Linked DNA regions of Homo sapiens: region 1 is linked to region 2. The links come from fine-mapping of genetic effects on gene expression. A gene starts in region 2. The other region holds a variant in brackets. All regions are shown on one strand. Distances are between the middles of the regions.

Region 1 (16,435 bases), 130 kb after region 2:
AGTTTATTTAACTAGAAAGAGAGTGAGAGAGAATTATTATTGTCTCTATTTGAAGCACATCTGAGAAGTCTTGATTATTCCTAAGCTACCTTTTATTGGAACAAAGCCTTTTGTTTCCCTCAAGAGTTTTAGGAAATTGCACTGGACCCAGAGGGAAGTGTTCTTCAATGCCTGTGCTTGGAGGAAAGGCAGATCCTCTTTTACTAAAGCATCATTTGCCCTATTTCACAAGCAGGATTCAGTCAAGGTAGCTTCTCTTTCTTTATTTTTTTTTCTTTTTCCCACCAGCTTCAAACGCAAAAATAAGTTCCTGCTGATAAAAGGTGAGAGGCAAGGCCATCTCTTGGCCCTTCCACAAGGGTGGAAACATTGCATGGAAAAGGGAAGAATCTGGAGACACTTAATTCCCAGTCCAGCTCCTCCAGTTTCCCTCATATCTCCGCCACACAAGAGAAGAGAATATGGCCACTTCCCTCTTTACTAGCCACTAAGAGCTTCTTAGTCTATGCATGGGCTCCCCACTTGGGAATGGTATAGGCTCTGTAGTCAGACTGCCTGGTTGGGGCATGGCTTCAGCACTAACTAGCTATGTGAGCTTGGACAAGTTAATTAACCTCTGACTCTGGATTCTTCTCTATAAAAAGGCCATAGCCCAAGGTAAAAGTGCCAAAAGGAAGAAGATATAGCTCCTGCCTTCAGCATCTCAGAGTGGCAAATATATCAAATTCCATGTGGTAATAGGAACATAGGCAGAGAATTACCAAAGCAGAGAGCACAGGCTAGGAGAGGCCCTGAAGATTGCACAGAGAGGTCTGGGTCTTCAAAGATACAAAAAAAAAAAAAATTACCAGCAGAGAAGTGAGCAGGAGTTATTCAGGAAGAAACAGCACACAAAGAAATGAAAGAGAAGGTTTGCGATGAGTCAGAAGGTGGGTGTGGGGGTTAAGAATAGTTTAGCCTGATTGGAGAATTGAGTATGTTAGGAGAAAGAACTGCTGGAAAAGTCATTTTTTATATAATATGCTAAGGAATTTGGAATTTAACCTAAGAGCACCCAATATCCATGGAACGATTTAAGCTAGGAGTGAAATAATCAGATCTGTGTTTACACAGAGGATGCATTGGAAGAGGTAAATTGCTCCTGAGTAATCTTTCAGAGACTGAAGGAAAAGAGTTGTAATCAGCACACATTTTACAGTTAGAATGAACATGACTTGGTGACCCAAGTACTAAGCTCTAAGAGTTACATGGTAATTGTGATGGAGGAACAGTTGATGGAGATGGAAGAGGGATGAGGGAGGTGCATAGTGCTCCTCTCCAGGGAAACATTTAAAAAAAAAAAAGAAAAAAAATCCTATGTCCTATGAGTATCCATGGAGCAAGTCTCCACCCATGGTAGAATAAAATATTGCCTTTTTCTTTATGATTGTTCATACTACTGAGAATGTTGGCTTAATTCACTTGCTGCCATGCTTCTCTTTAGAAGGCATCTTTACTAGAGAATCTCATCATCCCGTCTCCCATAAACTGCAGGAATTCTTAGTTTTGATGGGAAATTTCAGGATGACGAAGATGCTGAGAATGCAAGGTCAATTCAAAATTATTTCCAGCTCATCTTAATGTGTTCTTTTCTTCAAAAGCCGATAAAACACACTGTGGCAGTCAGAGCTAGCAAACAACACTCAGTTCTAAGGATGCTTTGATATTCCCACAGCTTTTAAATAAAAAACAATTTTTCATCTCCAGTTACTTTTGGGTTTTTTCTTATTGAGTATTGGTAGATTTGTAAAAAAATGAAAATAAAAAAGTCTTTTCAGAATAGGTTCTTAACATCAAATTAAATGCTAAAGCCTTTCTGTAGCCCTTTAACTTTGAAAACTGCTGTCTTTGTTTTAGCCAAGGACTCTCCTTGACTAGACATGCTCCCTGGGGAAATAGGCAGAGTTTTAAAAATCATGTTTGAATTTCAAAGTATCTATTAAGAAAGCATGTTAGAAAAAATAAGAGGTTTCCAGTACCCCAAATTCCTGTGTCAGGTGCACCAAGGATTGAAAGGCTTCACCTCCTTTTTCCCATATCCCCTTTTAAAGTACATGTGTTCCTAGGATGCTGAATTAAGCATTATTATTCAACAGCCCTCATCATTTCTGGTCTCTCAGTCTCCGTATCTTCCCCTCAGATACAATGCATACTCCAAACAGATTGTGGTTTTAGACTGTGATAGAGAAGAATATTCTAAATCTTCTTGTGTCTTCTCCTTGTTGGTCTTCGTTCTAATCATTGGAATCATGAAGAAGTTTAGTTTCTCTTCTGTGTGACTGACACCCCTCCAAATTTGTGCTGACAGGAATCTTGTGTTTCTTTAATGTTTAATTTAAATCTTAATAGTTCCTCATTACTCCTTATGTAATCCTGACCCTCTCTCATGGTGGTTACTCAACTGTCTTTCATCTGCTTACATATCTCTAAAATTGAGATTACCATCCAAAAGGCAGGCAATAACAAATGCTGGCAAGGATGTGGAGAAAAGGGAATGCTTGTGCACTGTTGATGGGAATGTAAGTTAGTATAACCACTATGGAGAGCAGTTTGGAGGTTCTTCAAAAAGCTAAAAATTGAGCTACCATATGATCCAGCAGTCCCACTGCTGGGTATATACCCAAAAGAAAGTAACTCAAAATATTAAAGAGATATCTGCACTCTTATGTTTGTTGCAGCACTGTTTATAATAGCTAAGATTTGGAAACAACCTAAGTGTCTATCGAGAGATGAATGGATAAAGAAAATGTGGTACATATACACAATGGAGTACTACTCAGCCATAAAAAGGAATGAGATCCTGTCATTTGCAACAACACAGATGGAACTGGGGATCATTATGTTCAGTGAATTAAGCCAGGCACAGAAAGACAAACATCATATGTTCTTATTTGTGGGATCTAAAAATCAAAATACTTGAACTCATGGAGATAGAAAGTGGAAGGGTGGAAAGGTGGGAAGGGTAGTGAGGGGCTGGGGGAGTGTGGGGATGGGTAATGGGCACAAAAAAATTAGAATGAATAAGACCTACTATTCGATAGCACCATAGGGTGACTATAGTCAATAACTTAATGTACATTTTTAAATAACTTAAAAAGTATAATTGGATTATTTGTGACTCAAAGGATAAGGGGATGGATACCTTATTTGAGGGGATGGATACCTCATTTTCCATGATGTGCTTATTTCACATTGCATTCCTGTATCAAAACCTCTCAGGCACCCCATAAGAATATATACCTACTTTGCACCCACCAAAATTTACAAAAATAAAAAATATATAAGTAGCACAGCAAAAAATAAAAACAGAAAATAAAAAAATAAAATTAAGATATTCAGAAAAGAATTAATGTCTCTAGTGGGTTATGGCTGGTGCACATCCCTTTCTGTCCAGACTATACCTCTACTGATACAGCCTAAAGCAAAATGAGTTTCTGGTAGCCATATCGCATTTTGATTCAAAATAAGACTAAACCATAAAGCCTTTTATTTTCACATGCATTAGGTTGCATCTACTTCAGATGTTGTATCATTGACTTTTTAGGCCCTCAGATAATTTATCTTGATACATTTATATTGTTAGGCCTTATTGATCTTACCTATCTGTCAGAATCTTTATGGATCTTGATTCTGTACTCCAGTGTACTTATTATGCCTAGTGTGCCATACCGAAATTCTATTTCTCCTTCTAAACAATTGATAAAATTACAGAACTGGATAATACTTAGGTTGTTGAATCATTCGTGGCATGCTTTAGCTATGGTTGTCAAACTAGATTATAAATTCACCTCATTTTACTATCATCTGGTCTAAATCTATCCAGATCATCCATAAGGGTATCAGGAGAGAGCTTACCAGATGTTGTGTCAAGGTCCACATTTACTGTGCCTACAACAGCTCCCTAATATGTGAGTCCAATAGCCTAAGTTAAAAAAAAGGAGGTGATATTGGTCTGGTATCATCTGCTTTTAATGAATCTATTGGGACACAATGATTTTTAGGGGTTCAGAAACCATACTTTTTAATCAATCCCAGTAGCATGCATGAGATGAGCACTGAGCTTACTTTTCCAAGAAAAGGACTGAGCTCTTTACATTTACCTATATGGTTTCCCTCTCTGCCAGTTAGGGTCCTTGGCCACTGCCCTGTGGTGAAGCTCTGCCCTGTCATCCTAGACAGTGGGCCCCTATGGAGCAGAAAGAAGCCAGTTGCCTCTAGTACTGAGAAAAGCAGAGTACCTGGTAAGCCCTCAGTGAGATATTGTTGGCTAAGTTTGTCACAGAAGAGAGTGTCTGCCAAATGTACCACACCTTCCCTGACTGTTTGGGACGTGTTTTGAAATGTGAAAGACTCAAATCCCAGCAGTGCAAAGCTGGACATCATGTCATTCAAGACAAGCTAGAGCTGTCTCTTTTTTTACAGGAAGGCACAGAGGTTACTGAGATTGAGCAATTATTACACTTACTGTCATTAAATTCTTCTTTGTGTTATTGTTATTATCAATCCCATCTGCCACTGCAGCTCTAGGATACAAGCAGCTTCCTACGTGGTGGATATGAGATAGGAGCCTTCCAGCCACTGGTACTCCAGAAGCCTTTGGAGGAGGGGAATCCCAATCATGTGGGGAAGGAAGGAACTATAATGTCTCATCATCTCCACAAGCAGAACCAAGCCTTTTCTGAAGCCTTTTGTGGGCACTCACCTGTGTGTCAGTGCATCAGCCCAGACTGGGAAGCCCAGACTCAGAGTCATGTTGCAGTGTAGGCATGAGGATATGTAAACAAGCAACTGAGGCTCCCTTCTATGCTGTGCAACTCGTGTATGACATAGGATCCTATGATATTAGCTTGTCATAGCAGCCATCCTGCCCAATGGTCTCACTTCTCCTTTTGCCTTCATTGTTCTACAGTAGCGCATGTGAGAGAGATGGTGGTATCTTAAGATAGGGTAGCACTATGGAAAAGGAGAAAATTGGACAAATTCTAGATATTTTTGGAAGTATAAATGTCATGACTTGCAGATGTGGGAAGCTGAGAGAAGAGGGGCAATAGAGATATGATGACTACCAGATTTTTAGCTTTAGCCACTGAGAGGAATTTTTTTTTTCCAAACTGAGATTCATCTTGCCTTCAGGCAACTTAGGTAGGAAGGCTGTGAGCAAGGGAGGAAAAATTAGCTCCATTTTCAAAATATTAATAGTGAGTTGCTTATTTGATCACTAAATAAGAAAACACTTGTATATATGAGTCTATGGTGCATGGAAGAGATATAAATGTTGGAGTCATTCACATATAAATGGCATGTTAAACCAGGGAACTGGAGAAGATCAGATATGATGGCGATGTGAATGCTTTTCGTTGACCGTAAGGAGCTTTGCACATAATGTGATGTTGTTATCTTGTCCATTCCTAGCTGAACATATCATTGGCCAAAGAAAATTATTTTCAAATTGGGGCTAGTCCTAGGTAATTAGACCTGGAAGCATTTGAGGGAGTAATTCAGAAAGAGAAAAGGAGTGGGCTGATCCCAGACCCTTCCCATCCCATGGCCCTGTGAGGCTGCGGAGCTTGCCGGAGCCCCAGCACCAGCTCAGAAATTGTCATCCTCCAGGCACACTTCCAATTCAATTAATCATGTTAATATCTATAAGTAAAGTGCAGTCAACAGTTACTTTAACAGTGAATGCTAATTATTAGTAGGATCCATCGCTTAAGAAGGACTTTTTGCCAATCTTGTCATGTCTGGGGAAAATATCAGGAATAGAGTTGGCATTTCTGAGAAAATAGGATGATCAAACTATTAACGTCGTCCATGTTATAGGTGGACCCGGCTTGGACCATCAGTGTGATTATTACAGGTGAAGATTAAGGACACTTGAGAGAAATGTTACAATTAAGATTTCCTCTCCCCTTGCTAAATAAATGGTTTCTTGCTGTTGCCTCTCACAATGGTTTTTGCTTTAGAAAGAGGCTCTGTAAGTACAGGATTTCTCAGTTAGCCAGTAGTACTAGGAAATATGGTGGCTGGGAAGGAGGGAAGGGAAACCAGATGTCCCCAGAGAGCCCGGTGGCTCACTGGACATTTGATCCAAAGACCCCAGGAAGCTGGGCTACTGAGGGTGCAACACATATCCAAGGACCCTCGAAACTTTCCTTCATTTGCACATCAATTCATTAGTGAAAGAAACAGGGACTGGGCCACTCCTAAGTTGCAGTCACTGGGGAGAGGTGGGTAAGTGGGCCTTCCCCTTGAAAAGTACCCAGACTGGTGGAAGTGACAAATGTGTAATCAAGTGTAATAACAGCTACGTCATGTTCAGTATTTACTGCATAAAGACATTTTCTCATTTAGCCTTTTTATCAACCTTATGCTGTAGATATTAGTTTCCTTTTCCAAAGGAGGAGAATGCGAACAGAAAATTGAGAAACTGAGAAATTACATAGTTTATTTCACGTTGCAGAATGATTAAATGAGGGGTCAAGACTTGAATTCAGCTTCAGTCCCTTGCACTATATGTCTAGGCTGCACGAGTTTTTAAATACAAGTGAAGTCATCTTTTGGGTTAGACTTCTAACCTCAATTCCCTGTCTTCAGAAATACTTTCAGCTACTTTGTTTCTTTTTAAATATGCTTCCATATTTTATATAAAATGTTAGATTTGACTTGATTTTTAATTTTATATTTCTATTGAATTTTATTATGGAAGATGAAGATTTAGCTCTTAAATTCACTAGCCACACACACACACACACACACACACACACACCCTCACACCTTACTTCCCTCTCCCATTTTCTCAAAATCGTTATACACTTGTGGAGATAATTATTCATGTTTGTATCATTATTGTTATGTAAACATGATGTATAGCTGAACCATGTATGTCTCTGTGGTTACATTCTTTTTTCCTCCCAGGAGTTGGTAATTTGTATCTCTAACCTGAATCTTCCCCTGATTTCCATTCTCTTATATCTAATTGGCTACTCAGCATCTGCATTTGGATGTCTAATAGGCATCTCACAATTAATGTATGTGAAACTGAGTTCTTGATCTCTCCCATAGTCCAGTACTTCTCCCCCTCCACTTGGAAATGGGTGTTAATGGCAATTCCATCTCTCCACTTGCTCAGGCAAAAAATTCTGGAATTGTCCTTGACTCTTCTCTATCACTTCTTCCATTAGAAAATCCTATTGCTTTATCTTCAAAATGTGATGACCTCTCACCACCTGCACTGCTTTCTTTGGAACAAGCCATGTCACCTCTCACCAGGTTCACTGAAGTAACCTTCTAACTGATGGCCCTGATCTCCCCAGACTATTCTTAACACTGCTGTGGGCTATCCTGTAATAGTGCTACTTGAGCTGTGTTGTGCTACTTTTCTACTTCAATCTTTGTAATGAATTCCATTCCCACTCAGAGCACAAGCAAAAATCCTTTCATAGTTTACATGATCTGATCCACCACAGCCTCTCTGACCTCATCATTTTCAATCTCTTTGTTTCTCACTATACTCCAGCTACACCTGCCTTGCCCTTCCTCAAATGCAGAAGGCTACTCTCTCACCTCAGGGCATCTGTGCTTGCTCCTCTGTTTGGAATTTTCCCCAATTAACTGCATGGCTTGCTTCCTTACCTCATTTCTCCAGGTCCTTATTCAAAAGTCACTCTCTCATAATGCCTTTCCTGACCTCCCTATTTAATATATTATTTAACTCCCCACTACTTAACTCCCTTTCCTGCTTATTTCTTCCCATTGCATTACATATGTGTATTATATGTATACTTCTGTATATGTGTGTATATGTGTGCATGTGTGTATAATTTATTTTGCTCATTGTCTGTCTTCACACACAAGAAATATAAGCTCCATGAGAGTAAATAATTTTTGCCTGTTTGGTTCACTGACAGATTCCCAGAACCCAGAGTACCAGGTACTCTGGTACAAATAATTGCTTTCTGTAAATGTTTGTTGAATGAAGAATAGAGGAATGAACTATATTGTTTTTGTTTGCTCTGTGTGTGTGTGTGTGTGTGTGTGTGTGTGCGTGTGTGTCCATGCAGCTAATTCATCCCAAACTCTGTCAGACATTTAAGTCTCTTAGTGAATACATCAGGTTTCATTTCTTTCTATAGAGGACAACATTTTAGGACAAAGAGCATGCCTGGCAGTGGTGTAGGAAGGCAAATGAAAAGAATCAGATTGAAAAACTGCCTGCTGGGTACTATGCCTATTACCTGGGTGACAAGATAATCTGTATACCAAATCCCCATGATACACAATTTACCTATATAACAAACCTGCACATGTACCCCTGAACCTTAAAAAAAGTTTAAAAAAATCAATACATAAAGCAAATATCTATATGCATGAGTCAGTTTCTGGGCTCTCTGTGCAGCTCCACTGGTTTATTTACCCTGCACAAATGCTACACTAGTCCAGTCCATCCTGGACACTAGTTCAGTTGCATTCTCATAAGTTTTCCTATCCAGGAGAGCAAATGTTTCTACTTTGCTTTTTATCAAAAGAATTTTGGTTATTCTTGGCACTTTGCATGTCCAAGTAAAAATTAGAATCAGTCTGTCAAGTTGGAATCTGACCGTAATTATATTTAGCCTGTAGATAAGTCTGGGAAATATCT[T/G]CACAATATTGAGTCTTCCAACTCATAAACATGGAGTATTGCTCTATTTATTTAGACTTTCCTTAACTTTGCTCAATAATATTTTTATCTTTTTCTGCAGAAAACTATTGGACTTTTTGGTAAGTGTATTACAAGGTATTTCATATTTTTAAGGCAGGTGTGAGGTTTTTTCTATTTTTATTTGTTTAACCTGTTTTTTTTCTGGTATATAAAAAAGCAATTTAAACCCTGGAAGAAAACCTAGGCAATGCCATTCAGTACATAGGCATGGGCAGGGACTTCATGTCTAAAACACCAAAAGAAATGGCAACAAAAGCCAAAATTGACAAATAGGATCTAATTAAACTAAAGAGCTTCTGCACAGCAAAAGAAACTACCATCAGAGTGAACAGTCAACCTACAGAATGGGAGAAAATTTTTGCAATCTACTCATCTGACAAAGGGCTAATATCCAGAATCTACAATGAACTCGAACAAATTTACAAGAAAAAAAAAAACAACCCCATCAAAAAGTGGGTGAAGGATATGAACAGACACTTCTCAAAAGAAGACATTTATGCAGCCAAAAGACACATGAAAATATGCTCATCATCACTGGCCATCACAGAAATGCAAATCAAAACCACTATGAGATACCAGCTCACACCAGTTAGAATGGCGATCATTAAAATGTCAGGAAACAACAGGTGCTGGAGAGGATGTGGAGAAATAGGAACACTTTTACACTGTTGGTGGGACTGTAAACTAGTTCAACCATTGTGGAAGTCAGTGTGGCGATTCCTTAGGGATCTTGAACTAGAAATACCATTTGACCCAGCAATCCCATTACTGGGTATATACCCAAAGGATTATAAATCATGCTGCTGTAAAGACACATGTACACGTATGTTTATTGCGGCACTATTCACAATAGCAAAGACTTGGAACCAATCCACATGTCCAACAATGATAGACTGGATTAAGAAAATGTGGCACATATACACCATGGAATACTATGCAGCCATAAAAAATGATGAGTTCATGTCCTTTGTAGGGACATGGATGAAGCTGTAAACCATCATTCTCAGCAAACTATCGCAAGGACAAAAAACCAAACACTGCGTGTTCTCACTCATAGGTTGGAATTGAACAATGAGAACACATGGACACAAGAAGGGGAACATCACACACCAGGGCCTGTTGTGGGGTGTGGTGGGGGGATAGAAGCGGGGAGGGATAGCATTAGGAGATATACCTAATGTTAAATGACGAGTTAATGGGTGCAGCATACCAACATGGTACAAGTATGCATATGTAACTAACCTGCCCATTGTGCACATGTACCCTAAAACTTAAAGTATAATAAAAAAAAAGAACTATGAGGAATAACCCTAAACAAAAATAATAAAATAAAATGTGCTTCTTGAAAATAAAATAAAAAAGGCAATTTATTTTTGTTTCCTGAGCTTGTATCCACTCTATTAATCATCATCAGTAAACATGCTTATAAATTTTAATAATTTATCTGTAGTTGTCGGAATTTATTTTGCATATCATGTCGTCTAACGATAATGACAGAATGAATTCTTTGTGCCAAAACTTTGTACCTTTTCCTTCTTTTTCATTCCTTATTTCACTAAGACCTCAAATACAATGTTCAATAGAAGAGATGATGTACCTTATTCCTAACATTAATTAAAAAGCTTTCAACATTTCACTATTAAATACACCATTGCTGTAGTCTTGTTTTTAGATGCTCTCTTTAAGAAAATTCCCTTTCCATATCTGGTTTGGATGCCTGATTTCATCACATTTTCTACATTCATTTAGATCAACTATAAGTTATCTCTTTATTCTCTTATGGGCAGTTAAGTTGTTTAAATTTCATATGTTTAATCAACCATGTAAACGTGAAAACATGTATGTTTGTAATTCATTGTATTTTTCTGGATTCAGTTTTACATTTTGTCTAATTTATTAAAATCTCAAGTCATAACTGAGATTGAACTGTAATTTTGCCTTTCTTGTAATGGCCTTTTCAGCTTTTAGTACCCAAAATATTATGTCTAAAAACTATGAATTGGGGAATATTCCCTCCTTGTGTATTTTTGGAAATATTTGCACATATTGCGTTTACTTCTTCCCTAAATGTTTAATAGAATTCACCAGTGAACCCAACTGCACCTGAAATTTTCTTTATGGTAAGGTTTTTAATTACGGATTCAGTTTACTTAATGAGACATAGACATTCAGAGTCAGTATTTCTCATATCTAGTTTATGAGTTTTGTGTTTTAAAGAACTAGTCCATTTAATCCAAATTTTAAAATCTATGGGTATAAAGTTGTTTGTAAAATTCTTTTATCTTTCAATGCCTTTAGGATGTGAAGTGGTGTTGTATTTTCAACCATGACATGGTTATTCGTGCCTTTTTTTCTCTCCTGCCCCTTTCCTTTTTCTGTCTTGAAAGAGGGCTATTTTTATTTGCCTTTCAAAAGCTAACTTTTGGCTCGTTAATCTTCCCTAAATATACTTATTTTCTATTCATTATTTTCTGTTCTTGTATTTATTTCCTTCATTCTACTTAATTTGTTGTTATGTTCTAGTTCTTTAGATAAATGATTTGATCACTGATAATTGGCCTTATTTTGGGCTATTTTATGCATTTAAAGCTAAAATATTTCTCAATATAATTTTTTAGCATTTTAAATGTTTTGAAATTTATTATTTTTATTATCATAGAGTCCAATGTATATCTGTTTTTCATCCTGTTATTTATTTTGACCCATGTTTTATTTAGAAATATTTTCAAATGTATGGAAACATTCTAGTTATCTTTTCATTATAGATTTCGAGTTTAATTGCGTTATGATCATTCCTCATCTGATCTAACATCTTTGCCAGCCCTACTGTTAACTAACCTCCTTCCAGAATGTTTTTCATGACATCAGCTTTGGTCTCCGGGTGAAAATGTGTGGTGGTTGGGTTCACAAGCATATGGACCACAACCACATCTCCCCTTCCCAGTCCAGGAAAATATGTGTGAAAAGGAAATTGAAGTGAGGACATTGTGTGGTTGTTTAATAAAGGGTTAAGTCACTAGGCTTGGTGTGCTTGAACCTGCACATTCTAAAGAAAGTACCAGCTCTTTACTGGTTCCTGAGAGATAATTTCTAAACCCTTAGAATATTCTGCCTAAGAGTTCTTTATATGACAGAACTTGGGCCAATACAGAAAACTGTAACTCTGAATATAACAGCATTTCTGGGTCCTGTGAGTCCTTCTAGTGAATTATTGAACCTGAGGATGGTACTGGGGACCCCTGACACAATGGTACTAAAAAAATATTGAGGAGACTGGGGTATCAAAAGTGTATTAATTTCTTGCCCACCTTGTGTGACCTTCTGTAAAGCCAATATTTAATAAGTTTGCTGATATAAATATACAAGTAGTATTAAAGAATAATTCACGAGGACTTCCAGTTAAATCCATCAGGTGAAAAACATAAGATGCTACCCCCATTATCTCTTGAGAACTCCCCCATAAAATGAGAGTAGATGAACTACAAAAGGAATAAGCAATAGAAGACTTTTTGCTTTAACCATTCAGTTATAAATGCAATTAATTTATATTGTAGGACATTATGAATGTCCTACAATCTTAGGCAAACCAACATCACAAAAGACAAGGTACAAAATAAAAATATATATCAACTCATCACTGAATAAAAAGAGACTAAAGCGAGAAGAAAGTATTCTAATTAACATCTATCACTAAGGACCAAGCGAGATCAGTGAAAACAAGTTATCCAGATAACTTTTGGAGAAATTTCAGAAGGCATAAGTACAAAGTAAAAGTATGAAAAGACAATCTTAAAACCTGCTTGGGAGGAAAAAAAAACCTACATAAGAATGGCATCAAACATTTCAACTGAAACATGAAATACAAGAAGACTTTGTGATGTAAAATGATTCTGAAATACAATAATTTTAACCTAAACTCTATGCCCAGCCAACTTTCTGTTAAGAATTAGAGCACAATAAATACTAATTTTTATTATACTTTAAGTTCTAGGATACATGTGCACAACGTGCAGGTTTGTTACACAGGTATACGTGTGCCATGTGGGTTTGCCGCACCCATCAACTCGTCATTTACATTAGGTATTTCTCCTACTGCTATCCCTCCCCCAGCTCCCCACCTCCCAACAGGCCCCAGTGTGTGATGTTCCCCACCCTGTATCCATGTGTTCTCATTGTTCAACTCCCACTTATGAGTGAGAACATGCGGTGTTTGGTTTTCTGTCCTTGCAATAGTGGTGGTTTCCAGCTTCATCCATGTCCCTGAAAAGGACATGAACTCATCCTTTTTTACAGCTGCATAGTATTCCACTGTGTATAAATATTATTTTAACTACCTGTGAAACTCACTGGAATTTTTTAGAAGCCCTTAATGACATACTCAAGCAAAATGAGCCATGTGTCATGGTTTTCATTTTGGAAGGATAGATGATGGTTTTAAGAAACGGTAGCAGTTACAGAAATGAGAACATTTTAAACATGGTTTAAATGTTTATTAATAATTTGGCTGTGAAACATAATGGAATAGTAAGAAACCATATGTAAAATAAAGAAGCATAATAAATTCTAGAGGAAGATTTGGAAATAAAGTTAACAAGCTTCATTTAATTGACAAATAGAAATTTGTCCCCTATGAATAAAGCATACATTGTTTCCAAGTGCATTTGAGCACAAATAATAGAATAGAATGGAATTTAAAAGTGGTTGAAACCATCAGGGCATATTCTCTGAACTCAAGGCAATAAAGCTACAAGACAAAGATATAGTCCTTTGCAAAAATCCATCTTCTCAAAAATTTTTTAATTTCCGTTTTTAGTTTGGATATCGGGGGTACATGTGCAGGTTTGTTACGAGGGTGTGTTGTCTGATGCTGAGGTTTGGGCTTCTATTGGTCCTGTCATGGAGATAGTGCACATAGTGTCCAATAGGAAGCTTTTCGGCCCTTGCACCCCTCCCTTCCTCCCTCCGTTTGGAGTCCGTAGTATCTCTTGTCCCCATGTCTATGTCCATGTGCACCCAAAATTTAGCCACCACTTATAAGTGAGAATACATAATATTGGTTTTCTGTTTCTGCATTAATTCAGTTAGAATAATGACCTCCAACGGCATTTGTGTTTCTGTAAGGACATGATTTTGTTCTATTCCATGATGTATATGTACCATATTTTCTTTATCCTGTCCACCACTGATGGGCACCTAGGTTGATTCCATGTCTTTATTATTGTGAAGTGTTGCAGTGAACATACAAGTGCACCCCTCTTTTTGGTAGAATGATGTATTTTCCTTTGGGTATATACCCATAAGTGAGATTGCCAGGTCAGATGGTAGTTCTATTTTTAGTTCTTTGAGAAATCATCAAACTGCTTTCTACACTGGCTGAACTAATTTAGATTGCAACCAACAGTGTATAAGCATTCCCTTTTCTCTGCAGCCTTACCAACATCTGCTATTTTTTGACTTTTTAATAAAAGTAATTCTGATTAGTGTGAGAGAGTATCTCATTGTGGTTTTCATTTGCATTGTGGTTTTCATTGAGCATTTTTAATTATGTTTATTGAATGCTTATATGTCTTATTTTGAGAAGTATCTGTTCATAGGCCAGGCATGGTGGTGCATGCCTGTAATCCCAGCACTTTCGAAGGCCAAGGTAGTCAGGTGACTTGAGCCCAGGAGTTTGAGACCAGCATGGACAACATGGTAAAACCCCATCTCTAAAAAAAAAAAAAAAAAAAAAAAAAAAAAACCTAGCTAGGCGTGGTGGCATACGCCTGTAGTCCCAGCTACTCGGGAACCTGAGGTGGGAGGATCACTTGAGCCCAGGAGGTCGAGGCTGCAGTGAGCTATGATTATGCCATTGAACTCCAGCCTGGGTGACAGAGTGAGACTCTGTCTCAAAAAATAATAATGTCTGTTCATGTCCTTTGTCCACTTTCTAATGAGGTTTTTTTTTCTTGTTGATTTGCTTAATTTCCTTATAGATTCTGTATATTAGTCCTTAATTTAGATGCATAATTTCTGAATATTTTCTCTCATTCTGTATGTTATTTACTGATAGTTTCTTTTGCTGTACAGAAGCTGTTTATTTTAATTTGGTTCTACTTGTCAATTTTTGCTTTTCTTGCAATTGCTTTTGAGGACTTAGTCATACATTATTTGCTTAGGCTGATATCCACAATGGTATTTCCTAAGTTTTCTTCTAAGATTTTTATAGTTTGAGGCCTTACATTAAATCTTTAATATATTTTGAGTTAATTTTTGTATATTATGATAGATAGGGGTCCACTTTTTTTCTTCTGCATATGGTTGTCAAGTTATTCTGACAGCATTTATTCAATAAGGAATCTTTTTGCCATTGCTTATTTTTGTCAGTATTGTAGATCAGTTGGTTGTAGCTGTGTGGCTTTATTTACTGGTTCTCTAATCTGTTGCAATGGTCTGTATGTCTATTGTTCTACCAGTACCATATTCTTTTGGTTACTGTAGCTTTGTAGTATAGTTTAAAGTAAAGTGATGCCTCTGGCTTTGCTCTTTGCTTAGGATTGCTTTTGCTATTCAGGCTGTTTTTTTTATTTTTTGTTTCATATGAATTTTAGAATAGCTTTTTCTAATTCTGTGAAAAATGACATTGCTAGTTTGATAAGAAGAGCACTGAATCTATAGATTGCTTTGGGCCATATGGACATTTTAACAATAGTGATTCCTCCAATCCATGAGCATGGAATATTTTTTCATTTGTACTGCCTATGATTTCTTTCAGTAGTTTTTTGTAGTTCTTCTTGCAGAGATTTTTCATTTCCTTCATTAGATGTATCCCTAGGTATTTTTTGTGTGTGTGTGTATTACAAATGGGATTACATTATTGATTCCATGCTCAGCTTGAACATTATTGTTGTACAGAAATGCTACTAACTTAAATATGTTGATTTTTTATCCTGAAACTTTACTGAAGTTGTTTATCAGGTCTAGGAGACTTTGGTGGAGACTTAAGGGTTTTCTAGGTATAGAATCATACTGTCAGCAAAGAGAGATAATTTGACTTCCTCTTTTCCTATTTAGATGTCTTTTATTTATTTCTCTTGTCTGATCACTCTGGCTAGAACTTCCAGTATTATGCTGAATAGAAGTGGTGAGAGTAGGCATCCTTATCTTGTTCCAGTTCTTAAGGGGAATGCTACCAGCTTTTGTTCATTCAGTATTATGTTGGCTGTGGATTTGTCATAGATGGCTCTTTCTATTTTGAGGTATGTTCCTTCAATGCCTAGTTTGTTGAGGTTTTTTTTTTTTTTTATCATGAAGTAATGTTGAATTTTATCTAAAGCTTTCTCTGTGTATATTGAGATGATCTTTTTTTTTAATAATTCTGCTTATATGGCCAATCACATTTATTCATTTGCATATGTTGAGCCAACCTTATTCTGTGTAATAAAGCCTACTTGATCATAGTGAATTAACATTTTGATGTGCTGCTGAATTAAGTTTGCTGGTATTTTGTTGAGGATTTTTGTTCTATGTTCATTAGGGATATTGACCTGTAATTTTCTTTTTTGTTGTTTTGTCTTTGCCAGATTTTGGTGTCAGGATGATACTGGTTTTCTAGAATGAGCCTCCTTCTCAATTTTTGGAATAGTTTCTGAAGGACTGCCTCCAGCTCTTCTTTCTATGCCTGATATAATTCAGCTGTGAATCCATCTTGTCCAGAGC
Region 2 (16,435 bases):
ATCTCTATTTTCTTTAAAGTGAAAGAAATGGACTTACAACTTTATAATTGTCCATCATAAAACTGGAAAGAAATCCACACAGTCCAGGAGAGAGGAATACAGATTTTGAACATACCAGAACAACTGCTACTGGAATAATGGTGCAACGATAACACACACATGGGCAAAATAGAGCTGCTCAATTCCAAATTTGCTTTTATTTCATCTCTCAAGAAAATTCACTCGAAACAGGAAAGAATAAAGCTCACAGATTAAAGGCTATTGATGCCCAAGATGACAGTGATAGTCACAGAACATGAACTCTAAGTCAGTGCTAGTCTCTTGGTCCAGATAAATTATGTATACTTCAGGGTCTAAAGCAAATGTTAGAATGAATACCTTTTTTGGATAATTAGGAAGTTTTTGAGCATTTGATGGGAGTGCTAATCACTAGGAGGTAGCATGGGTTCACTGAGAACCAGTCATGCTAATCAAATCTTATTTTCTTTTGTTAAAGGCAACTATCTGGCAAGTAACTGAATAAAACAAAATGACAATTAATAGAAAGTTTTGCTGTTAAGAATCCCACACCATTTCCCAAAGTACGGAATCTAGCTCACAGGAACAGGGGTAAGGATGTGGTCTAAGAGCAGCATGAAAGATTTATGGGATTTCATCCATGGCATGTTGAGATGCTGTAACCCAAGCAGCAACTCAGAAGCCTGAGGCACAGAGAGAGCAGGAAGTTGATGCTAAAGGGTGAAGGAGTGCTGGGCTCAGCTCAGGAACTCTATTTCAGAAAGGATTTTGACCAATTGCAGCACACGTAGAAGACAGATAAGATGATGAGAGAACCTGAGCAATGTCACACAAAAAGTGGATAAAGATACCGGATATTTGTGTTCTGGACGTGACTTGGAGCAGCAGTGTGGCATGGAAAACACAGGCTCTGGAGCCAGACAAATTTGAATTTGAATGCTGGCTGTCTCCAATAAGCTGGAGAAGTTCCATGGAGAAGTTACTAAACTTCTCTGTTCTTGTTTCCTCATCTGTAAATGTAAAATGGAAACATAATGTGTGCCTTGCTGGGTGGCCAGGATTAAATGCAACAACATATATCAAGTGCATGATGGTATATAACAAATGCTTAATAATGATTAGTTATAATCATTAATGTATATCATTCAGGGACATTGTAGGTGACTTCAAAGATCTTTTTCCAAAGGCCTTTTTCTTTTCTTTTCTCTCTTTTTTTTTTGTTTTTGTTTTTGTTTTTTGAGTCAGGGTTCTATTCCGTCACCCACCAAAGGCTTTTTTCGTCAGCATATAAACTGGAGGTTCTCAAATTTCATTGTTCAGAAGCATTACCCAGTGTCTTATTCTGTTTGTACTGCTGTAACAGGATACCTGAGATTAGGTAATTTAAAAAGAAAAAACATTTATTGTCTTATAATTCTGGAGTCTGGGAAGTCTAAGATCAAGGCACTGGCATCTGGCAAGGGCCTTCTTACTGTATCATCACATCGTAGATGGTGGAAGGGCAAAGAGACAAAAGGGGGCCAAACTCACCCTTTTATAACAGCATAATTCTACCCATGCAAGTGGAGCCCTCATGGCCTAATCATCTCATCAACATTCTACCTTTTAATACTGTTAAAATGGCAATTAAATTTCAACATGTATTTTTGTCCAACCATAGCATCTGGGATGCTCTTTACGAAATAATTGTGTAGGTCTGAGTGAATCCGAGGAACCAGCATTTTCATAAGAAATCCAGGCAATTTCAGAAAAGAAGGCAAGTGAACCTTACTTTGGGAAACATTGATAAAAACATTCTGAAGTCGCTCCTATCTTCAAACAGCTTTTCTTCTATGCACTTTTTTTTTTCAGTTACCATCTTCTCTTTGTCCTTCTCTCAAAAGATTTACTTTTACTTCTACTTGGTAGGTCTAAACAGCAAAACTTCCTAACCAGGGCACCAGGGAAGCTTGATGTGCCACAGAATGGGTAATACCTGGGCTGAGACTTTGATTCCTTCTGCCACAGTCCCTGCTGGCCACCAGTGGCCTAGTCCCTTACCCCCATGTGCTGTAAAAAGTTCACTTTCTATCTATGCCACGACAAGTACAAGACTGAGAAGCACTGCCTTAGAGAGCAAGGATCATTGTTTATTTCTCTATATATTACCCAGGACCTGGAAGGCTTCCTGAGTCACAGGGGACTTCCTCTGTCATGCTTTCTGAATCATAGAAGAATACATATTTGTTCAATGAATGAAAGAACAAATAGTTGGGGAAAGGTAACATATTTCAGCTAACTCTACTTCTTCAATTTCCATGTACTTTTTAATCCTGTGTTCAGCTGGTTCCACCCTCACCACTCTACTATAATTGCAGAAGAACAGAGGCTTTGGAGCCACAAAGATGTGGATTCCAGTCCTGTTTCTATCATTTACCAGTTTTTTGCCTATTTCAGATGTCTACTGCTGCATTAAAAGGTTGCTCCCAAACTCTATGACTTAAAACAACCACCATTTTATTGCTCATGATTTTGTGGGTGAGAAATTTGGTAAATGGGGATGGTTCACCTCTGCTTCACTTATTGTCTGCTGTGCTCATTTGTGGGCTGGAAGGTCCAAGTTCGAGAGGTCCATGGCCTCACTCACATGTGTGAGGTCTTGGGCTGGCTGTTGACTGAGGCATCTATTTTAGTCTTCCAGGGCTACTGTAACAAAATAGCATATACTGGGTGGCTTAAACAATAGAAATTTATTTTCTCACAGTCAGAAGTCTGGGAAGTCCAAGCTCAAGGTTGCAGCCAATTCCATTTCTAGTGAGGGCTTTCTTCCTGGCTTGCAGAGAGCTGCCTTCTCACTGTGTCCTCACATGGCAGAGAGAAAGCAAACTCTTTGATGACTCTTTTTAAAAATTATTTTTTATTTCTATAGGTTATTGGGGAACAGGTGGTGTTTGGTTACATGATTAAATTCTTTAGAGATGATTTGTGAGATATTGGTGCATCCATCACCCAAGCACTATACGCTGCACCCTATTTGAAGTCTTTTATCTCCTGCCCCCTTCCCACCCTTTCCCCTGAGTCCCCAAAGTCCATTGTGTCATTCTTATGTCTTTGCATCCTCACAGCTTAGCTCTGCTTGTGAGTGAGAACATAAGATGTTTGGTTTTCCATTCCTGAGTTACTCCACTTAGAATAATAGCCTCCAGTCTCATCCAGGTCACTATGAATGCCGTTAATTCATTCCTTTTTATGGCTGAGTAGTATTCCATCATATATATATACATATATATATACACACACATATATATACACATATATACATATATACACACATATATACATATATATACACGTATACATGTATATACACATATATACACATATACATATATATGTGTATATATACGTATATATACATATATACGTGTATATATACGTGTATATATACGTGATATATATATATACATATGTATATATACGTATATATGTGTGTATATATATATATATATCACAGTTTCTTTATCCACTCATTGATTGATGGACATTTGGGTCGGTTCTGTGTTTTTGCAATTGTGAATTGTGCTGCTATATACATACATGTGCAAGTATCTTTTTCGTATAATGACCTCTTTTGCTCTGGGTAGATACCCAGTAGTGGGACAGCTGCATCAAATGGTAGTTCTACTTTTAGTTCTTTAAGGCATCTCCACACTGTTTTCCATAGTGGTTGTACCAGTTTACATTCCCATCAGCAATGTAGAATTGTTCCTTGTTCACTGCATCCACACCAACATCTACTGTTTTTTGATTTTTTGATTATGGTCATTCTTGCAGGAGTAAGGTGGTATCGCATTGTGCTTTTGATTTCAATTTCCCTGTTCATTAGTATGTTGACCATTTTTTCATGTTTGTTGGCCATTTGTATATCTTCTTTTGAGAATTGTCTATCCATGTCCTTATCCCACTTTTTGATGGGATTGTTTGTTTTTTTCGTGTTGATTTGTTTGAGTTCGTTGTAGATTCTGGATATTAGTCCTTTGTCAGATGTATAGATTGTGAAGATTTTTCTCCCACTCTGTGAGTTGTCTGTTTACTCTGCTGTTTTTTTTTTCCTGTGCAAAAGCTCTTTAGTTTAATTAAGTCCCAGAAATGTATCTATCTTTGTTTTTATTGCATTTGTTTTTGGGTTCTTGGTCACGAAATCCTTGCCTAAGCCAATGTCTAGAAGAGTTTTTACAATGTTATCTTCCAGAATTTTTATAGTTTCAGCTCTTAGATTTAAGTCCTTAATCCATCTTGAGTTGATTTTTGTATAAGGTGAGAGATGAGGATCCAGTTTCATTCTCCTACATGTGGCTAGCCAATTATTGCAGCACCATTTGTTGAAAAGGGTGTCCTTTCCAAATAAAATACTTAGGAATATACCTAAACAAGGAGGTGAAAGACCTCTACAAGGAAGACTGCAAAACACTGCTGAAAGAGATCAGAGATGACACAAACAAATGGAAACATGTCCCATGCTCACAGATGGATAGAATTAATATTGTGAAAATGACTATACTGCCAAAAGCAATCTACAAATTCAACACAATTCCCATCAAAATACCACCATCATTCTTCATAAAATTACAAAAAACAATTCTAAAATTCATATGGAACCAAAAAAGAGCCCACATAGCCAAAGCAAGACTAAGCAAAAAGAGCAAATCTGGAGGCATCACATTACCTGATTTCAAACTATACTATAAGACCATAGTCACCAAAACAGCATGGTAGTTGTATAAAAATAGGTATACAGACCAATGGAACAGAATAGAGAACCCAGAAATAAACCCAAATACTTACAGCCAGCTGGTTTGATGATTCTTATAAGGAAACTAATCCTATTGGATCAGGGCTCTACCTTTATGACCTCATTTACTCTTAATTAAGTCCTATCTCCAAATACAGTGACATCGGGAATTAGGGCTTCAACATAAGAATTTACAGTTCACTCTATAGCAGTATCTCACTTCCCTTCTGTATGATATTCTTTCTCCACATTGTTTCTCATTCTTCTGGACCCCTCTCCAGCAAGATATCCTGTAAAAGTTGCAAGATCTTTTCAAGTCTAGACTCAGCTCAGAATTTCACTTCTACACATTCTGTTGAATAAAGTGAGTCACAAGGCAGGCCCAAATTCAAGCAGAGGGGAACAGACTTGACTTCTTGATGGGAAGAGTGGTAAAATCACACTCCAAAAGGACACATGGAATTGGAGGGATAGCTATGGCTGTCTTTGGAAACAGTCTACCAATTTGTCCTTGAACAAATTGTTTAACCACCTGATTTTACTTTCTTTGCCTGTAAAATAGGAAATATAGCATCAACCACTTTGGGATGTTGTAAGTAATAGATTAAGAAAGTGTGTTTAGCACCTCGTACATTGTAGTAGAAACATAACAGAAACAGCAAAAACACATATTGGTTGAGCCCATACTATGTGGCAGCACTATTACAAGCACTTAAATATATTGCTTTATGTAATCTTTGTAACAGCCCAAAGATACACGTTATCTTTGAGATAAGATGAGAAACCCTAGGCACAAAAATGTTAACTTGCACAAGGTTGGTTGCATAGTAACTAGTCTGTCTAAATCTTGAATGTCTTACTGTCTACTTTATCCAAAGGACACTTTTTAGTTTTTTCTCTTTAAACTATATTTGAAAGTTTACAGTTGATGTTGCTCGCTCCTCTACCAAACACTCCTCCTCCCGTGATCCCTATGACTCCCCTCTGTACAATCTTTCCTCCTGTTCTCATTGCTACCTTCCAATCTCCTCTTTCATTTCTTCAACTCTTCTTTCTTGAAGGAACCATCCCATGTGGCAACTCAGTTTCTACCTTTCCAATGATGATTGCCAGTCTTCACTCTCTCCTAAACTCTAGGCTTGCATTTCTAAGTGTTATTAGGGTGTGAGCACATATGACCCAGGTAACGTTTTGAAACGTTTGTGCCTTTCACTTCTTTCTTATTCCATTGGTTGCAATCTTGTCACTTAATACTTGAAATGTTTTTCAAATTTGGATGTTTCTAGCAATCAGCTAATGCCTTTGGCCTGGTTTAGGCCTTCATCATCTCTTGCCTGGTTTATCAAAGTCATTTTTTAACTGAACTTGTTGCTTTCAGTTCCTCTCTGACATGATGGCATTAGGGTAATATTTCCATGTGCTTCAACACACATACCTTCTCACCATTACTATATGTCCCCCCCGCCACCCCCCCCCAGCATCACACTATCTCTGGTGTCACCTTCTCTGTTCATGGCCTTTTTCTTCTTCTCTAGGGGTTCCCCCCTTTGAAGAAACAGCATCTGCTCAACCTCCCCTACAGGCTCCCTTAAAGCTGGTTTCTCCTCCCTCTGTTTGTCTCTTTGCAACTCTCTGGAGGCATCTTTACCTTTACAACTTTGCATTTTCTCTGCTATTCCCATGTAAGTTCCCTGAAACCCTAGTACCATTCACAGCAGGATTTCAAAGGTTGCCTGTTGCGTGAGCATTCTATAGGATCCCAAATTATCTTTCTGTGCAAATATGAATTGTTGTGATATGTCCGTAGAGACGGCACAACCTCATGGCTAAGAATGATAGTTACCAGTTCTAGAGATCCTACTCTAATTGCTCTAGAGTGGGGGCCTGAACACCAGTATTACAAAAAAGACAAAAGAAAAAGAAGGAAAAAAGAAAAAAGAAAGAGAGAAAATCAAAGCTACCTTCATCATGTATGAATTTGAGCAAGTAACACCTTTGTGAGTCCCCAGGCCCCAGTTTCTCATTGGTAAAATGAGGATAACAATTACACAGACCTTGTTGGGCTATGTACAGAATTAAATGAGATTATGTACCTAAAAGGCTTGTGGCACAGTGACACACACACACACACACACACACACACACACACCCAGAGTACTTCGTGGTTATTTCTAGGCTTTACTGCTTGAAAGGCTGAAAAGATGGGTGGATGAGAGGTGCCCTGAGGTTCCTTCCAACTCTCCAAGATTCTGTGATACTCCTCCTTGGGTGCTGAAGACACTTTGGCAATGTTTGGATTTCCAAACGGTTGCTTAGAAAACTAAGGGACCCACGAAGCCCAGGTAAGCCTCAGGGTCTTTCCCAGGAATCGTTTATTTATTTGATCTTAGTTCTGACCTAGAGCCTCCACCTTCTCCATCCAAATCACCACAGTGGTCGAAAAGGGCCTGTGCTTGGGAAATCCTTCCTTTGTTGGCGAATCTTGGACCCAAACCCTGCATTTGGGCATCTGACACCCATAGGCCCATGGTTCAAACCCAGGCGGCTCTTTCCAAGTTCGAAGCAGGGACTCGGTTCTGCGCATCTGGCGGGTGTGCCCAGATTGTAACCTTCGCACTAGGCATCCAAGAACGTGCTTTGGACACACTCGGCGGTGGGAGCGGGTGCTTGGTTTGCATCAGGGATGAGGGGTGGAGTAGCGAAAGCGCCCGGAGCGCGCACTCACTCACACTCCCCAAGCCAGGGCGCGGCCGCTCTGGGCGCGAGGTCCCAAGCCAAGTCTCGCGCTCGGCCAGGAGCCGGGGAGTACCCCAGGTCCCCGGTCTGGGGCCGCCGCTATCCTACCCTGCGGCGCGCACTCCTGACCTGGCCCCGCCCCCCGGCGGCCGCGAGTAGCGGGCGGAGCGCAAGCAGAGAGGCGCTCTGGGCTGTGCGGCACCGCCTCTCCTCGGTGTCTGGGGAGGGACGGAGGGACCGGGCGGGAGAGAGAGAAAGCCTGACCGACCGGCTGGCGAAGAGCTGCATGCAACCGGTGGGAGGCCGGGCCGGCTGGGTCTGGGGCTCGGGCTCAGGCTCGCACCGTTTCTCGGCAGGTCCCTGGCGGTGAGCGCGGACGGCCCGGAGGCGGCGGCTCTGAGCTGGCAGGCGGAGGGCTGTCTCCTGCGCCCGCCTGCCCGGCGCGGTCCGAGGATGCGGGGGGGCGATGCCCGGGGCCAGGGACGCGCTCTGTCACCAGGCGCTGCAGCTGCTGGCCGAGCTCTGTGCCCGTGGGGCCCTGGAGCACGACAGCTGCCAGGATTTCATTTACCACCTGCGGGACCGTGCCAGACCCCGGCTCCGCGACCCAGGTGAGTGCCGCCACCGCCGCCTGGAGGGACCTAAGGGCCCTGGGCTGGGACTTGGGGCCGCACCGGGGCCTGAGGCAGAACAGCGACGCGGACTGGGAGAGGGCGGGGGGCGGCCACCGAGCCAGGAGAGTGATCAAGAACCAGCGCACTGTGGCCTGATGCTGTAACCAGGCGGGGACCCGGGCGGTGGCTACTGCACGGAGGCCGACTCCGGGTCGGCTAGGGCAGGGTTGGAGGGACCACGCCCGCCACCTGCGCTCCCATCGCCAAGGCTCCTGGGGGCGGCTCCCTAGCTCCGAGCTACGCTCTCCACTTCCCGGGCTATCTGCACTCAGAGCGAGGGGAGGCCGCGGCGGCCTCGGAGCCGTGGGAAGGGGGACGAGGCCGAAGGAAACTCTGGGAAGTTGGGAGTTGGGGACGGCCCCGGGTTGGGGCCGAATCCCACCGGGTGCTGCTCATCCTTTCTCCCAAGCGTCTAGTTCCTTTCCTTGGTATGGGGTGAGAAGGGCGGGACGCGATCCGGCGTTGGGCCGGGGACAGGGTGCTTCTGGCCTTGGGCAGACGGGCCTGAACCCGTTCCCGGCGGGTCGCACGGCATGGAGGTGGCCTGGGCCTGGGCGCTAGGCTCGACCAGCGACTACCGCCGGCCACGATGGGGTTCGTAGACTCGTCGGTCCTGGCTTGTGCACCTGTAGTTACTCCTAGTGAAAGTTGCAAAGCTCTTAACTTTGGAAAGTTCATTTATTTTGGCATTTGACCAATTAAGGTTGGAGGAGGGAGTTTTAGTGGAGCCATTTGCTTTTCCTGAGGTCCCTGGGTCTCCCAGGTCGTCTCATCCGTTACTGGCTACTGGAAAATGCATTCCTTCCAATGTTTGCTTGAGATGTTTCTCACCTGGAGAAATAGTTTTCTCGAATATTCTCCCAACCTAAGTACTTACCAAAACAGCATATTGTGGTTGGATTGTTAAAAATGGGATGAGAAAATGGCCTTTCTCTTGATATTGCTATGTATAAATATTGGAAATGAGCTATTGCCTTGCAAATTATGATGTACGAATTGAAAACAATTTATTATATAAAAATCCATTTATCCAAAAGATAAATTAAAGAATTATTTGATTTATAAAGAGTGTCACACTGAGCCAGACTTAAATAGCATATCCTTGATATATTCAAGATGGTCGTGTGGGGTGAAGTCATCTGCTAAAATTTTAAAGTTTATATCAGATTTTCCCTACCAGAGGCTTTTTTTTCCTATTGAAAAAGAAAAAAATATTGTTTTCCATTGCCGGTGGTTATATTAACTAAGTTTATTGAATGATCATTGATATATTACTTCAAAGTGGATAATTGGGTAGAGAAATACTGATCCCAGTGGTTTCCAGGGAGGTTTAATGTCCAGCCTATGTGCATCTCATTGCTGGATGTGATGTGCTGAATAAACCACAGTCCCTTATCTCACAAGCTGGAGTCCCAGGAAGATGTCTTAAGTCGGGGAAGTTCGTCCTTAAGCAGCAGAAGCAAGACAATTATTTTGCATGCTTTGCCCAAAGCAAGTATTAGTATTGAAACATCTCACTTCCTTGCCTGTGACCAGACCACGAGTTCTCCTTGTTATCCCACATAAGCAGTTGTCTTTGGCTTTACAAGAGAAGATGGATGAGGCCTATCTCTGAATCACATCTTTTTGGCCAGTTTTCTGCTTCTACTCCTTTTAATCCGGGAGCTGGATCCTGTGTTCTCAGATTCTCTTCAGCCCCTACACCAGGCAACCCCTGAGAAAGAGTCACTAAGTAGGCTTCTTACAAGAGGAAATCTGATTCCTTGGCGGAGGAATAGCTAGAGATAGGAGTCGACCTTGCTGCTCTGAGTTCCTGATAGCAGTGCTCTGCTTTCTTAAACTAGGACACAAGGGTTTTGAAGTAGCCCCATGCCCCTGTGGCTCTTTGGTTTTTGTTGGAAAGTAGCCAGCTCATGAGGACAGGGGTGGGGGTTTTCGAGTGCAAGGTGAGAGGAAATGAGGCCAAAGATTACATCCAAAGTGCACCCTCTCCTTCAGGACACTTCTCCCTTCATTTCCAAATCTCCCTTCATTTCCCTCCTTCCTTGCCTTGCCGACATTAATTCTTACATCAGATGCATTTGTCTTCATCCCTCTGAAGCAAGAGTGTCTTTAATCTCGGAACCCTAAAAGCTGAGTAGTAGAAAAGCTGCACCACACAACGCCGTGTGAATAATGTCCCTGCTGTTGATAGTGTGAACCAGAACAACCATGCACAGCAGCCCTGAGACATGGGTTCCTAGAGAGAGTCATCTCGGTAAATGGATGACTTCTTTTTCTGGAAAGGAATCCACCTGAATGCCATGTCCCAGCTTTCTCTGTTATTGTCCATTCACGGCCACCCTGTGATAGCTAGGTTTTCTCAAGCTGAACTAAGGACTTTGGTTATAAAAGGAGAAAAAAGATATAATTTCCTGTGGACAGCAAAGTGACCCTGCATCTAGGAAATTTACTCATTTTTTCAGAGGTGTGGAAAGACTAGGGCACAGACCAGCGGGCCTGAGCCATCAGAAAGGTTCTTTTTTGTCCAGGTAGTTATAGTGCCCTGTTGGGGGAGTACCGCACCCAGATTTCCCTGACTTGGTGTTCACAGAGGACTTGATGCAATTGTGGTTTAAAAAAATAAGCCTAAGTCACAGTTGGAACTGAAGTGCCTCACCCAGTCTGTCATCTGTACCAACTTGTGGAAAGGAAAGTGCTGAGTGTGAGCACTTTTGTCCATAGAAAGCAATTAGAATGCTCTGTTGGTTGCCTTTATGGTGTTTTATATGTTAATGATGTGGGACATAAACTTGCAGGCCTCAGAGACTAGCCTTTAAGGCAGAGGGAACAGCAAGCGCAAAGGCCCTGAAGTGGTAGCATTATTGATATGATTCTAGAAATGGTGACTTCAGAGGTGGCTGGAGAGGTGTGAAACAGATGGAGAGTGATAAGACGTGTATGGTCAAGAGTTAGAGAGGGTGGATCATGCAGAGTCTTGTAAACCATTATAAAGACTTTGGTTTTTACTCTGAATGAGATAGGAAGCCATTAGAAGGTGCTGAGCAGAGAAGTGACAACACTTTGACTGCTATGTTGAAGAGCAAAGGTGAAGTCAGAGAAACCACTTAGGAAGCTATTTCAGAAATCCAGACAGAGGTGATAGTGACTTCAACAGGGATAGTGGTAATGGAGGTGATGAGAAGTAATTGGATTATGAATGCAATTTGCAGGTACAGCCGCAAGTATTTATTGAAGGAAGAGATGTGAAAGGTGAGAGAAGGGCAATTAAGGATGCTTCAAAGGCTTTTTGACCTAAAAAATTCCATGTACAAGTAGAAGTCTTCAGGAAGAAGGTAGGGGTGAGGAGGGAAATCATGAGGTTTATTTTTTATTTTATTTTAACTTTTTGTAACACATTAAGTGTGTGATGCCTCTTTAGATAGCCAAGCTGTTTTACAGTTGAACAGTGACCTGAGGTATGACTATCCTCTTTAATGTCAATTGCTCTATGCTCGTATTTTTTAACTGGAGACTTCGCTGTCAAGAAGATTAATTGGTTATAGAACAGTATGTATTGTTAGAAGGTTTTCCTTGTAGGGAATTAAAAGGTCTCTTAAATTTCTACCCATGGATCTTGATTATACTTTTTTTGGTCAAAAAGCATTAGTCTTATCTCTCTTCTCCATCATACACCTTTGGCTATTAGGAGGTAAACTAGCCTAACTTATCTAGATCCACTCTTTCCAAGGAACAGAAAGGAGGATTGGATCATGTAATGACTAGGTCTTAAACATGTTTTTATCATTTTCTTTTTAAGTCTTTTCTTCTGTAGGGTGCCAACCATGTCTGTGCCAAGCACTTTATGTAGGTCATTTCACTAGTCCTCACAAGTCTTTTAAGCACTTATCTGTGTTCCAGCAGCAGCAGCAGCTGCTGGGAGCTTGTTAGAATTGGAGATCTCAGTTATGTCCCAGACCCACTGAATATGAATCTGTATATTAACAGGATCCTCAGGTGAGAGTTGTAGGCACATTAAAGTTCAAGAACCATGGCTAAAAGTGATTGATATATATGAGTAAACTGAAGTCCAGAGAAGTAAACTAGCCCAGGGCCATGGAGTCCATTTAAAAGAAGAATTGGGTCTAAGTGAAAGTAGCTTCTTAGGTAGTCACATCACATGTACTGAAAACTGAGGAGTTATTGTCAATGAAAATTTTCTAGGTGTTTTTCATAAGAGCCACCCTTAGACCTACTTTCTCTCTTCTGTACTTGTATGATGGATTTAATCCCTAAGTGTAGGTCACATTCTATGTAGTTGTAAAGATTCAGCTTAGTATTTTTGATTATGAATTCTGTTATCCAGGATACTGGTTTTCCATTCATGTTCCAACTCCATATTCTGGAGATTTTTCTGCATGTTCTCTGTGTCTGTACCCAATGTTTAGAAAAGGTTCAGCAGGTCAGAGTATGAAGCAGAGCCTTAAGACTCATGATTAGTGATTCTTCTCTCCATGTAAATATTACTCTATTCAAGAAAAGCTTTTTCTAGGTCATGGTTTTCAACTTTGGCTGCACATTAGGAATACTTAGGGAGCTGGAACAAACAAACAAAGAAAAAACAAACAACAGCAACAACAAAAACTACCAATGACTGGGCTGCACCCTAGACCAGTTTTAAATCACAGTCTCTGGGAAATGGGCCTGGTATCAGTATTTTTAAAGTTCATCTATTGATTCTAATGTGCAGCCAAGTAGAGAACAACCTTTGAGACCATTGGGCAAAGAATGCATCCGCCTAACCCTTCTCAGCTCAGCTCACATTTGTTTCTTGCAAAATTAGGAAAGATAGTATCAAAAACTAGGAACCTTGACTGTTACCCTGTACAGCTAGTGCCCATATCAACTGATTCTTAACTTTCTTTTCCCAACGTTATCCTACATTTTTCTTTTAAGGGCTCATTGAACATATCATAAGGCTCTATTATGTCCACCAATCTGAGAGGGGAAAAAACAAACAAATCAAGAAAAATCTTGTCTAAATAGTGTGTCATTAAAAGGTCAGAATATAGAACCTTCACAAATGTCACCCTATGTTAAATTATAATGAAGTCACTTATTAGAAAATGTACATGTAAAATAATAATTAAATATAGTTTCTATGAAAAAAATCTCCAAAATAATCATCAAGATTAAATATTAGCCTTGATTCAAATTTTTCTAAGGTAGTCAAAAGAGAATCAGTCTTGAAACACTGGATGTTTATGAATAGACCTTGGTGTGATTATGCACAATGGGATTAATTTTTTTAAATTAATGTTAATTGCAATCAGGAAAAAGAGTCTTCTAAGGAATGAGTGGCATATTGGATGCACAATATGTGAAGATCTAATTTGCATTTACTTCGGTGACATTTCAGGGCTCCTTCATAAATATTTTATTTAAACAAGTGTGTTTTCATCTCTGCGGGACTCCTCTACATGGACCAGTGAGTGGTTTAGTCATGAGGTAATTATCAAGAGGGGAAAACAAAAGCAAATTGTAGTAAAGGCATCACAGGCAGCCCTATGGCCAGCTGCCTCTTTCAAAATAAACAATCAAAAGCACAAACTTTTTGATGTGGGATAAACTCTCAAGGAAAAATTAAACTGACACCTAAAGGAAATCATCCTCAAATTTTCTATTATGTATAGAGCATAGATGTTGCTTTCACTGAAGTAGCATTGAGGCACTTTTATGTTTGTGCTGCAAGTGCAATTTCCCATATGGTTGGCTTAAAAACATTCATAATCTCTTCCTAACAGGTTGACTTGAGGGAACTAACAAGTTCACACTCCAAAGTGTATAGAGAAAGTGGAGGAGCTTAGTGAGAGGCATAAATGGGGGAGCAATCTCACTTTTAAAAGGACAAGTATGGAGTATGTATTTCTATTTTCTGAATGAAGTTTGAATAAAATCACCATTTGTGGAGAAGTTTTCAGTTTTCACTGCAATCTTGGAGCAATAAATGTGCATCACGACTTCCTTTTCTTTCAAATGTTTATTTGGTGGGCTCTAGGAAGGGCTTTAGACCACATCAAATCCTGAGGACCAGGCTTTGCAGATCTCTTTGAAATCTTCATATGGCCTTGCACATGTATTTTATCACACAAAAACTTTAAATCAACATTGATAGAACTGCACTTGAAAGAAAAAAAAATCTTCTAGGACATCAAGATGACAAAGTGGAATAAGCAAGGACTTTGGAGTTAGAATCTGACTGCACTTACTACCTTAGTGACCTTGAGTAAAATATTTAACTCTTCATTTTATTCATCTATAAAATGGGAGTGGAAGATTGCTGTAACATTGTGCCCAGAGTAAATGCTCAAATAAATGATCAATAAATTGATGTTGTTGGTAGTATCACCTGCCCATGTTTCCTTTCAGCCGTGGTCCACAAACATGTATATGTTTTACCATTTGTAATTATTTGTAGGCTAAATTTACTTTCTACTTTTTTGTAAACTTAGCATTTTATTACCTCTTATTAGCTGTGTGTTCCTGGACAAGTTATTTAACCTCTGTGTCCTCATTTTCTCATCAGTAAAATGTATTACTAGTATCTGGGTTACTAGTTACCCAGATAAAATACAGGCTGCCAGTTCAATTTGAATTTCAGATAAACGACAGGGAATATTGCATGGCACATAATTATACAAAACAATCATCTGTTGTTTATCTGAAATTGAAGTAGAACTGGGCATCCTATATTTTTATTTGTGATGCTGACAACCCTATACTAGTACCTATCTCGCAATGCATGCGAAATACCATAGTACCTGGTATATGCTCATAGTAATTACACGTAGTAAATGCTCAATAAATACTAGCCATTATTTCTATTATTATAATTTTCCCATTGTTAACACTTATTAGTACGTAATTATTATTGTTGTGATGACTATGTATATTCCAAGAATGGGTATACCTTTTTTATTTAACCATTCTTTTGAGGCTATTCTAGCTTGTAATTTTTTTTTAGTGTGAATAATGTCTTGTATTTATAGTCCCCTGTTTCCTTTTGGGAAAATTTTTTCATGATAAATTATAAACAGTGAGCCCTAATTGCTTTCTGGTAGATCTATGTTAGTTAGTCCTGCTACATGTCAACAGTAAATCCGCTAGCATTAGGTGTATAATGTGAACAAAAGGTTGCTAATTTAACATGGTTTAAACAGCTGCTTAGTTGTTTCAATTTGTGTTTTTTTTGTTGGTAAGACTGAATATTTTTTGTTTTGAACCTTCTTATATTTACTCTTAAGTGAATTTTTTGTGTTCTCTACCACATTCTCTATCATGTACCAGTTTATTTTTTGAGAATCTTAATGTTTTTTTCTACCAATTTCCATTAATTAGAATGTAAATATTCTGTCAAATTAGCTCACAGAAGGAATATTGTATAGTGAATGAGCTCAGGTTGTCTGACTATAATCAACCCATTATATTAAAGTGTCTTTTGAAATTTCAGGGGTGGTTCAATAAATAGGGATTCGTTGTAACACTCTTTTCCAATGCAAAATGCTGCATTTATTTATATGAAATATGAAAAAGTTGTTATAATTTGAATCTCTTTTTCTTTATGTTTTCTTTCCCACTCCAACCTACCCCACCCTACCCTTGTGCAGCTGTTACTTAACCACGTTGAATTGATCAATCTTTTCTAGTTATAATTAAGTTAAATTCCAAAAACATTTATTGAGGGCCCCTTAAGTGCTATGTACAAGGTTGGGCATCTGTCATTCAAAGATACATTAGACATGCTTACTGCCTCTATGGAATTGACATAAAACAATAATGGCAATTAATAAAATCAAGAAGGGAGATATCTACTGGATACAGTACAGAAAAAAGAGGAGAGAAGTAATTAGCTGACTTGAGTGGATCTGCAGAGGCTTCCTACAGAAGTCTATTCTTGGGCAGAAGAGTTTGTCTGGAACTAGTTGGTGGGAAGAGCATTCTAGGAATTTACAAAGGTCCTAACACAGAAGAGGATGGATCCTGGGTAACAGTAAGTTGAGTGTGTGTTGGCAATGTTGAGAGATGGATCTGCTCTAGTAAACAATGGTCAAATCAGATCACGAAAGCCCCTGTATGCCATTGCCAAAAACCCACTGAGGACTAACTGGAGCACTCTGACACAGAAATCTTGAAAGAAGTACAATTTATATCATAAGCCCAAAGCAAAGCACACCAGGAGATTTCAGTTCCATGAATG

Which allele goes with the higher level. Alleles are on the strand shown, and positions count from the first base shown. SD is a standard deviation of normalised expression in the study named.
With allele T in place of G in region 1, the expression in coronary artery of the gene that starts at base 7,709 in region 2 is lower (small effect, 0.40 SD a copy in GTEx).

Evidence for each region. PIP is the estimated chance that this variant, and not a neighbour inherited with it, causes the effect.
Region 1: its variant is the best candidate, but not a certain one, in a credible set for the expression of SYT9 in coronary artery (GTEx, PIP 0.63).

Annotation. Positions count from the first base shown.
Region 1 is chr11:7,377,289-7,393,723 of GRCh38, forward strand. All of the region lies in intron 3 of SYT9 (synaptotagmin 9), which reads left to right. Among named protein-coding and RNA genes, the nearest start is that of SYT9-AS1, 80 kb to the right of the region's middle. The variant T/G (reference allele first, on the strand shown) is at 8,678.
Region 2 is chr11:7,244,196-7,260,630 of GRCh38, forward strand. SYT9 (synaptotagmin 9) reads left to right here and starts at 7,709. Exons shown (of 7, transcript NM_175733.4): 1 at 7,709-8,136. The coding sequence starts at 7,992. RefSeq lists a silencer at 7,602-7,741.